Linked DNA regions of Homo sapiens. The protein of the gene in region 2 interacts with the protein of the main gene of each other region in a biochemical or structural test. Each region holds a gene or a part of one and is shown on either strand. Other genes may lie near its edges.

What was found.
Region 1: the proteins of DNA2 (region 2) and RBBP8 form a complex in vitro, tested with the Homo sapiens proteins (one study listed by BioGRID).

Annotation. Positions count from the first base shown.
Region 1 is NC_000018.10:22,992,068-22,996,095, reverse strand, and holds part of RBBP8 (DNA endonuclease RBBP8), read right to left. Parts: intron 3,349-4,028; coding exon 2,457-3,348; intron 2,376-2,456; coding exon 2,249-2,375; intron 1-2,248. UniProt on the Homo sapiens protein: Endonuclease that cooperates with the MRE11-RAD50-NBN (MRN) complex in DNA-end resection, the first step of double-strand break (DSB) repair through the homologous recombination (HR) pathway.
Region 2 is NC_000010.11:68,469,174-68,473,299, forward strand, and holds the start of DNA2 (DNA replication ATP-dependent helicase/nuclease DNA2), read right to left. Parts: upstream 2,801-4,126; 5' UTR 2,713-2,800; coding exon of another isoform or gene 2,692-2,712; coding exon 2,618-2,691; intron 991-2,617; coding exon 808-990; intron 1-807. UniProt on the Homo sapiens protein: Key enzyme involved in DNA replication and DNA repair in nucleus and mitochondrion.

The DNA.
Region 1 (4,028 bases), on a different chromosome or scaffold from region 2:
GAAATGCAAACCAAAACCACGAGATGGCAAAAATCAAAAAGCTATAACAAGTGCTAGTGAGGAGGTGGAGATACTGGGACCCTCACATACTGCTGGTGGGAATGTGAAATGGTGTAGCTGCTTTGGAAAACAGGCAGTCTTTCAAAAGGTAAAATGTAGAATTGGCATATGGCCCAACAATTCCACTCCTAGGTATAATCCAAGAAAAATGAAAACATACATCCACACAAAAACCTGTATACAAATGTTCATAGCAGCATTGTTCATAATAGCAAAAAAGTGACAACTTGAATGTCAGCTAATAAATACCTAAAATATGGTATACTTATGCAATAAAAAATTATCCAATAAAAAGAAATAAAATATTGATATATGCTGTAACACAGATAACTGAAAACATTATGCCAAGTGAAAGAAGTAACAAAAGATCATATATTAAACGATTCCATTTATATGAAAACTCCCAGAATAGGCAAATCTACAAAGAGAGAAAGTAGATTTAAGGTGCCTAGGACTGCAGAGGGTATATGGGGAAGGAAAGTGATGAAAATGTTGTAAACCTAGACTACAGTGATGGTTGTACAACTCTGTGGGTATACCAAACCACTGAATTGAACATTTTAATGGGTGATTTTTATGGTATGTGATTTATATTTCAATTAAAATTTTTTAAAATTAAAAACTATAACATTGATGGGGTTTTCAATATATGTAGATAAAATACACAGGAACTACATAAAGTGTAGTTACAGAACATGAAATAGTACATTAACTCCAAGTAGATTGTAAAAGGCTAAGTAGGTAGATACTGTAATCCCTAGAGCAACCATGAAAAAAATAAAAACAAAAAGCTCAAAAAAAATCATGAATGATAGTGAAAAAAATGTTTTCATATAGAGACTAAAACACTCACTGGAAAAACAACTAATGACTGTGCTTCAGGAAAAAGGGAAAATAAACCCAGAATAAAGGAATAACTTGCCAATGAAGAATACAAGAAAAAATACTGCACTTGAACTACAGAAATGTTTGGTGGCTGAAAAAAAAAATTACTTTTTTAAAGATAGCAGGCTGGGCGTGGGTGGTTCACACCTGTAATCCCAGCACTTTGGGAGGCCAAGGCAGGCAGATGGCTTGAGTCCAGTAGTTCGAGACCAACCTGGGCAACAAGGCGAAACCCAGTCACTTCAAAAAATAAAAAAATCAGCTGGGTGTGGTGGTGCATGCTTGTAGTCCCAGCTATCCAGGGGGCTGAGATGGGAGGATCCACCTGAGCCTGGGAGGTCAAGGCTGCAAGTGAGCCGTGATCATGCCACTGCACTCCAGTCTGGGTGACAGAGTAGGACCCTGTCTCAAATAATAATAATAATAATAATAAAATATAGCAAAATTATGAAAAGATGCCTATATATCTTAAGGCAAACAATTTTTTTTTTCTTTTTTTTTTTTGAGACGGAGTCTTGCTCTGTCACCCAGGCTGGAGTGCAGTGCAGTGGCACGATCTCGGCTCACTGCAAGCTCCACCTCCCGGGTTCACACCATTCTCCTGCCTCAGCCTCCCGAATAGCTGGGACTACAGGCGCCTGCCACCATGCCTGGCTTATTTTTTGTGTTTTTAGTAGAGATGGGGTTTCACCACGTTAGCCAGGATGGTCTCGATCTCCTGACATCGTGATCCACCAGCGTCGGCCTCCCAAAGTGCTGGGATTACAGGTGTGAGCCACCGTACCGGGCCAACAATGTTTTTAAAGGAGTTTAAAAACGTATATAAGTGGCCGGGCGCAGTGACTCACGCCTGTAATCCCAGCACTTTGGGAGGCCGACGCTGGTGGATCACGATGTCAGGAGATCTAGACCATCCTGGCTAATGTGGTGAAACCCCGTCTCTACTAAAAATACAAAAAAAAAAAATTAGCCGGGCATGGTGGGCGCCTATAGTCCCAGCTACTCGGGAGGCTGAGGCAGGAGAATGGTGTGAACCCGGGAGGCGGAGCTTGCAGTGAGCCGAGATCGCGCCACTGCACTCCAGCCTGGGCGACAGAGCGAGACTCCGTCTCAAAAAAAAAAAAAAAAAAAAAAAAGAACAGAAAAATCACCGGTAAAATGTGAGAATCGTCCTATAAATACAGACACCTGAAGGAAGAAATAAGTTTTTTTCCAAAACAATTCAATCTATTTAAAAAAGTAAATAATGACATTCAATCTGAAGTCATTAAAAAAGTGGAGATCCTGTTTATGGTGTACACACCTTGGTTGTTTTGTAGAGACTTTATTTTACCAGTTCTACATGGATTTAACTGAAGAACTGATGCAAGTTCACATCCTCCATGGTCTGACCTGGTTTGTATTTTTATTGGCTCATGAGAACCAGCACTCTAAAACAGAAATAATTGTTAGCTCTAAATGAAATCACAAGCAATCATTTTAATCAAAATCCTTGAACATTTAACACAAACCTTTATGTCATCTAAAACATTCTCAGTCTCCAAACTTTCACGTGGACGTAGAGGAATTTTAAAGACAGCATTTTCTTCTTTTATTTGTAATGATGGTTTATTGTCTGGAGAGCATTTATTCAAGGGCTGAAGGATGATGCATTCCTGTGAACAGGGCTCCCCTGGGGAATCTTTGGGCAACGTGCAGTTGCCATCTGAGGCCTTACGGCTTGAGGAAAAGCCCTTTGGAATGGTCTTCAAAGCCTCATAAAGAGTCACTTGCCTAAATTTGTTTTTAGAAGTCTCACTTCCTTGGCTTTTCTCTTGACGCTGAATAGCTGAAAATCGATCAGACAGATCCAGAGGTTTATCCATCACACAGTCTCCATTCATGGAAAACTGATTATCCATTGGAAAAGGGAAAGCATTTTCTTTATCAAAAGAAGCTTGGGGGCAGCTTACTTCATGTTCACTTTCTTCCTCAGTTTTCTTCCTTTTGGATGTTCGGCCTCCCAATGATTTCAGGGGCTCCAAATGTTTATCAGTGTTAGAATCTTTACCGTACTCAGTCCTATTCTGTTCACCTAGGGATTCACTTATATTTTTATTTATAAGTATCTGTTTATTAGATGACTGGATAATGATCTTGTTCACTTCAGACCCAAGACTGTGATGTGTGAAAAGGGCACTATCTTCAGATTTTGATCTAGTTTTTTCTAATCTAGATATACAAGTGTTGCTAAAAGGGAGTGTTTTCAGATGTTTTTTTTTCCCAGGCTGTAAAAGAGAAGGGGACAAACTTGTATTCAAATCTAAACCACTTTTGATACTAGAGGTAGCTCCAAATACAGGAGATGACACTCGAGTAGGTAATTCTTCTTGAGGAGGAGTCTTTGAAGTAGAATCTGAAAATCTAAATAAAGAGTGATAACAATTCTTTAATACAGAATTAATAGTAAGGTCTTATCTACCTCTTAGAAGCAAATGATTAACCAAAATTTAAGACAAGGTACAGCTTTTGGCTTCTCTTCATTTAGATGACAAAAGAGAAGGGGAAAAGCAGAGGAAAATGACATAGGAAGTATTTCTCAACACCATAATATTCATATTTTAAAAATTTTTCCTAAGTACTTTAAATAACTTTATTATACAAAAAATCATCTTTTGCCAGGCGCAGTGGCTCATGCCTGTAATCCCAGCACTTTGGGAGGCCAAGGTGGGCAGATCACTTGAGGCCAGAAGTTCGAGGCCAGCCTGGCTAACATGGTGAAACCCCATCTCTACTAAAAATACAAAAATTAGCCGGGTGTGGTGGCACACGCCAGTAATCCCAGCTACTCTGGTGGCTAAGGCACGAGAATCACTTGAACCTGGGAGGTGGAGGTTGCAGTGAGCTAAGCCTGGGTGACAGAGTGAGACTCTGTCTCAAGAAACAAACAAACAAAAATCATATTTTAATAAATTCCACTGAGAACCTAAGTTCTTTTGTTACGACATTTGATCATGAGTAACTCCAAGAAACAAAATTCTTACACTACAGAATTGAACATAAATTAAGATTCAGCCTGTCTCTAGCAGAGGAAATATGCGTAG
Region 2 (4,126 bases):
AGGCCTAAGAATGTCCATATGTTTTAATTAATTTTGCTTTTAGTTAAAACTAACATGTGTTTAAACTGCAATCTTAGAATGTACTGGGAAGGCCGGGCGCGGTGGCTCACGCCTGTAATCCCACCACTTTGGGAGGCCGAGGTGGGCGGATCACGAGGTCAGGGGATTCGAGACCATCCTGGCTAACATGGTGAAACCCTGTCTCTACTAAAAATACAAAAAAAAAAAAAAAAAAAAGAATGTACTGGGAAATAGGAAGTAGTCATTAATAAGGTCCTTTGTACGTGATTTTCTTTTCTTTTTTTTGAGATGAAGTTTCGCTCTTGTTGCCTAGGCTGGAGTGCAATGGCATGATCTCAGCTCACCACAACCTCCACCTCCCAGGTTCAAGCAATTCTCCTGCCTCAGCCTCCAGAGTACCTGGGATTACAGGCAAGTGCCACCATACCCAGCTAATTTTTTTTTATTTTTAGTAGAGACTGGGTTTCTCCATGTTGGTCAGGCTGGTCTCAAACTCCTGACCTGAGGTGATCCGCCTGCCTTGGCCTCCCAAAGTGCTGGGATTACAGGTGTGAGCCACCATGCCTGGCCCACGTGATTTTCAAATGACAACAAAAGTCAATTTTTGGAATATGAGACTTGAGATACAGGAGTAATAGATACAATTTTCATGCAGAATTAGGCTAAGATCAAACCTACTCCCTTTTAAACAATTAAATTATAGTAACATTCACAGAAGCCATTTGATGAGTTTTACGACAGTACCCTTAAGATTCAAATCGGTGCTCAAAGTCACATAAAAATTACCAGTCATTCCTAAGGATGCATAGTTCTTTATTTTCTAGTGACTGTGAAGCAGTGATGACCAGGCGCTTTTCACAGTTTCCCTCTTTGTTCTGTACAGTATTGACTGCCAACACCAGGTACCGGTTATCCATTCCTGTGCTCAGAACTGTTCTTGGAAAGGAAGCTACCACTTTCTTCTGAAATCTAAAGCACACACATACAAAACTATTTTAGCACAACCATGAAATAAGAAGCCATCCAATATGTTTTATCTACAAACCAATCTTCCAGTTTTCTAGGTTTCTTTCTTCTGAAAAGCTTATTGCAATGACATTTAGACAAAATAGGTAAAATTAAGAGAGCAAAGACACAGAAGAATTCCTATTATAAAAACTTCCCAGAAGTAATGCCATTTCAAACATGCTCATGATATGAGATTTTCCATTTTAATTTCTGTAAAGCGTTCTGTGGGACACTCATTACAATGAGGATTAAGAATAAACTGGAAGCCAGGCATGATGGCGCACACCTGTAGTCCCAGCTACTCAAGAGGCTGAGGTGGAAGGACTGCTTGAGCCCAGGAGTTTGAGGCTGCAGTGAGATACGATCATGCTACTGCACCCCTTCCTGAGCGACAGAAAAAGACCCCGGTTCTGGCGGAGAAAAAAGAAAGGAAAGTATAAATTGGACAACATTAAACAAGAAATTTCTACCACTGGTGCAAGCCTTCCCAAAGTACAAGTAAAAGGAGATGTTTTGGACACGATCCTTTTTGTAAATATGAGACTTATGTTACGGAAAAGGGTATTGTCCGTGGTTCACTGAAAGTCCTATCATGAGCCACAGAATTGTACTTAGAAATAATTTAGTCCAACCTGCTAAAGTAATGCCGGAAATCTTTCGATAAAATCTCACTGGACAGAAAGCAGGCTTAATACCTATCGATTTAGCTCAATCCTTTACAGAGTAATTCAGAACTTTATTACTTATATTTATAGTGGGTAAGTCAATTTGTCAATACTTTCATCCATCGGTCCAAGCTGTCTAAAATTATGCAAAATAATAATCTCTCAAGAAAACAGCCCTTCTCCTATTAAGTACCTCTTAAGTCTTCCCCGTTTGACTGAGGCATCAGTGAGGGACCAAAGGAGGGTCCAAAGTCATTACCTCTCCAGTGATAACACCAAACGCCTTTCACATTACACTGCAAGTTATCTTTTGTTACCTGACCGTAGGTTCTATTATTTTGCAAACGCTTTATTCCTGTAGTCCACCTAACCTCAGGCCATGAATTTCGCAAGATTGGCTATGATGCCTTAAAGATGTTTCTCAAAAGGTATTGCTGATCAAAAGCCCAAACGCAAAAGTCCCTCAACGCTAATTAGCATTATTGCTATAATATTGAAAGTAATTCCACATTATGACCGTGGTTAACTTCCTCTGATCATTTATATACACCATGCTGAGGGTGCAGAGATCCCCCAAGGATAAGTTAATCCAACTAAACATCGAGAAAAGCCTACGGCGGTTGCAATTTCCTATTATAAAAACATTCCAGTGGCCGAAACTCCTCAACTTAGGGAGAGAGGTGAAATCAAGGGAAACAATGAACTGCTCGGCGAGGGAGAGTCCAGGCTCTGGCTGAATGTGGCCCCAAAGAACACCTTGGGAGGCAGGCCCCGACTCCGGAGGCTCGTCGGGTGCCCAGGGAGCTGCACCGGGTCCCTGGGCCCCGGGCCCGGTCAGTCTGAGGCGGTGCGGACGCAGCCTCTCCCGCTCCTTCTTTCAAATCTCCCGCTTTGTTCCCACACCCTCCCCCCTCTCCGCTCACAGCTCCGCCGGCAGCTCCGCCTCCTCCCAAAAACTCTTCTCCATCAGCAGCTCCAGTTCGTTCAGCTGCTCCATCCTGGACGCGGGGATCGCAAACTGTAGACAGAAAAGACAGCGGAACCGGGGGTAACACAGAAAGCTTAGAAAAGGGAAAAAGGCGCGAGCCTGCGCACCTCGCGCGCATGCGCCAACCCGCAGATGTCCCAAATGACCTGCGCCAGGCCGCCCCTCCCGCGCCGGCGCGTTCCACGTGGGGCCCCTCACCTGAGCAGCAGGGCTCTGTCCCCTGCCTTTGCTCCCTTGCTTAGGACTGGGAATACAGGGAGTCTTCATATCTGAAGCAGACTAAACGCTCCTGCCTTCTCTCTTGACACTCCAACCCGTGTCCGAAACCTCCCGGGTTCACACCATTCTCCTGCTTCAGCCTCCCAAGTAGCTGGGACTACAGGCGCCCAGCTTAGTTTGAACACAACCTTTACACGCTTAGTTTGAACACAACCACATTTGTAGTTGCCCAAAACCAGGCGCCCCTGGTTAGCCTTCAGAATTGTGCACTCCCTGGGAAACAGCCTCTCCCCTTTTTTTCAGAAAACTTATTGAGAAAATAGAAACTGTCGGATAGGAACTCCTTGATCATGCCACGGCTAAATCTACAAAACTTCTGGCCAGGCATGGAGGCTCACGCCTGTAATCCCAGCACTTCGGAAGGCTGAGGCGGGAGGATCACGAGGTCAGCAGTTGAGACCAGCCTGGCCAACATGGTGAAACGCCATCTCTACTAAAAATACAAAAATTAGCCGGGCGTGGTGGCATGCGTCTGTAATCCCAGCTACTCGGGAGGAGGCTGAGGTAGAATAAATTGAACACGGGAGGTGGAGATTGCAGATCCTGCAACGGCACTCCAGCCTGGGTAGAGCGAGACTCCGTCTCCAAAAAAAAAAATTCTACAAAACTTCTAATATCTGCACCATTCTTCATAACCTCTTTCCACCTTTTTTCAATAGCAGACAAAGTGTTCTTCTGGTTAAAGGGCAATCGCTCCACTTGCACTTGGCATCCCAGGGCTTCAAGCATTCTCAAGGGCATCGCTTCTTCAATTATTCTCTTGTATCATCAGCCTCGCCCTCACTATTGGATTGAGCCTCTAATATGGCCTGGTGTCTCCCATTTTTAAAAGATGTTTCCTTGCTGGGCACAGTGGTGTGCACCGATTTTTGATATTTATATACTTCTCTCATCTGGAGGCACTGACAAGAACATCCAGAGCCATGTTAAATATCAGTGGTATAACTGTTATCCTGATTTTTGTTATTCATTTTTTAAATAGATAAAATGCGCCGGGTGCCCGGTGGCTCAGGCCTGTAATCCCAACACCTTGGGAGGCCGAGGCGGGTGAATCACTTGAGGTCAGGAGGTCAAGACCAGCCTGGCCAACATGGTGAAACCCAGTCTCTACTAAAAATATAAAAATTAGCCGGGTGTGGTGGTGCACTCCTGTAATCTCAGCTAC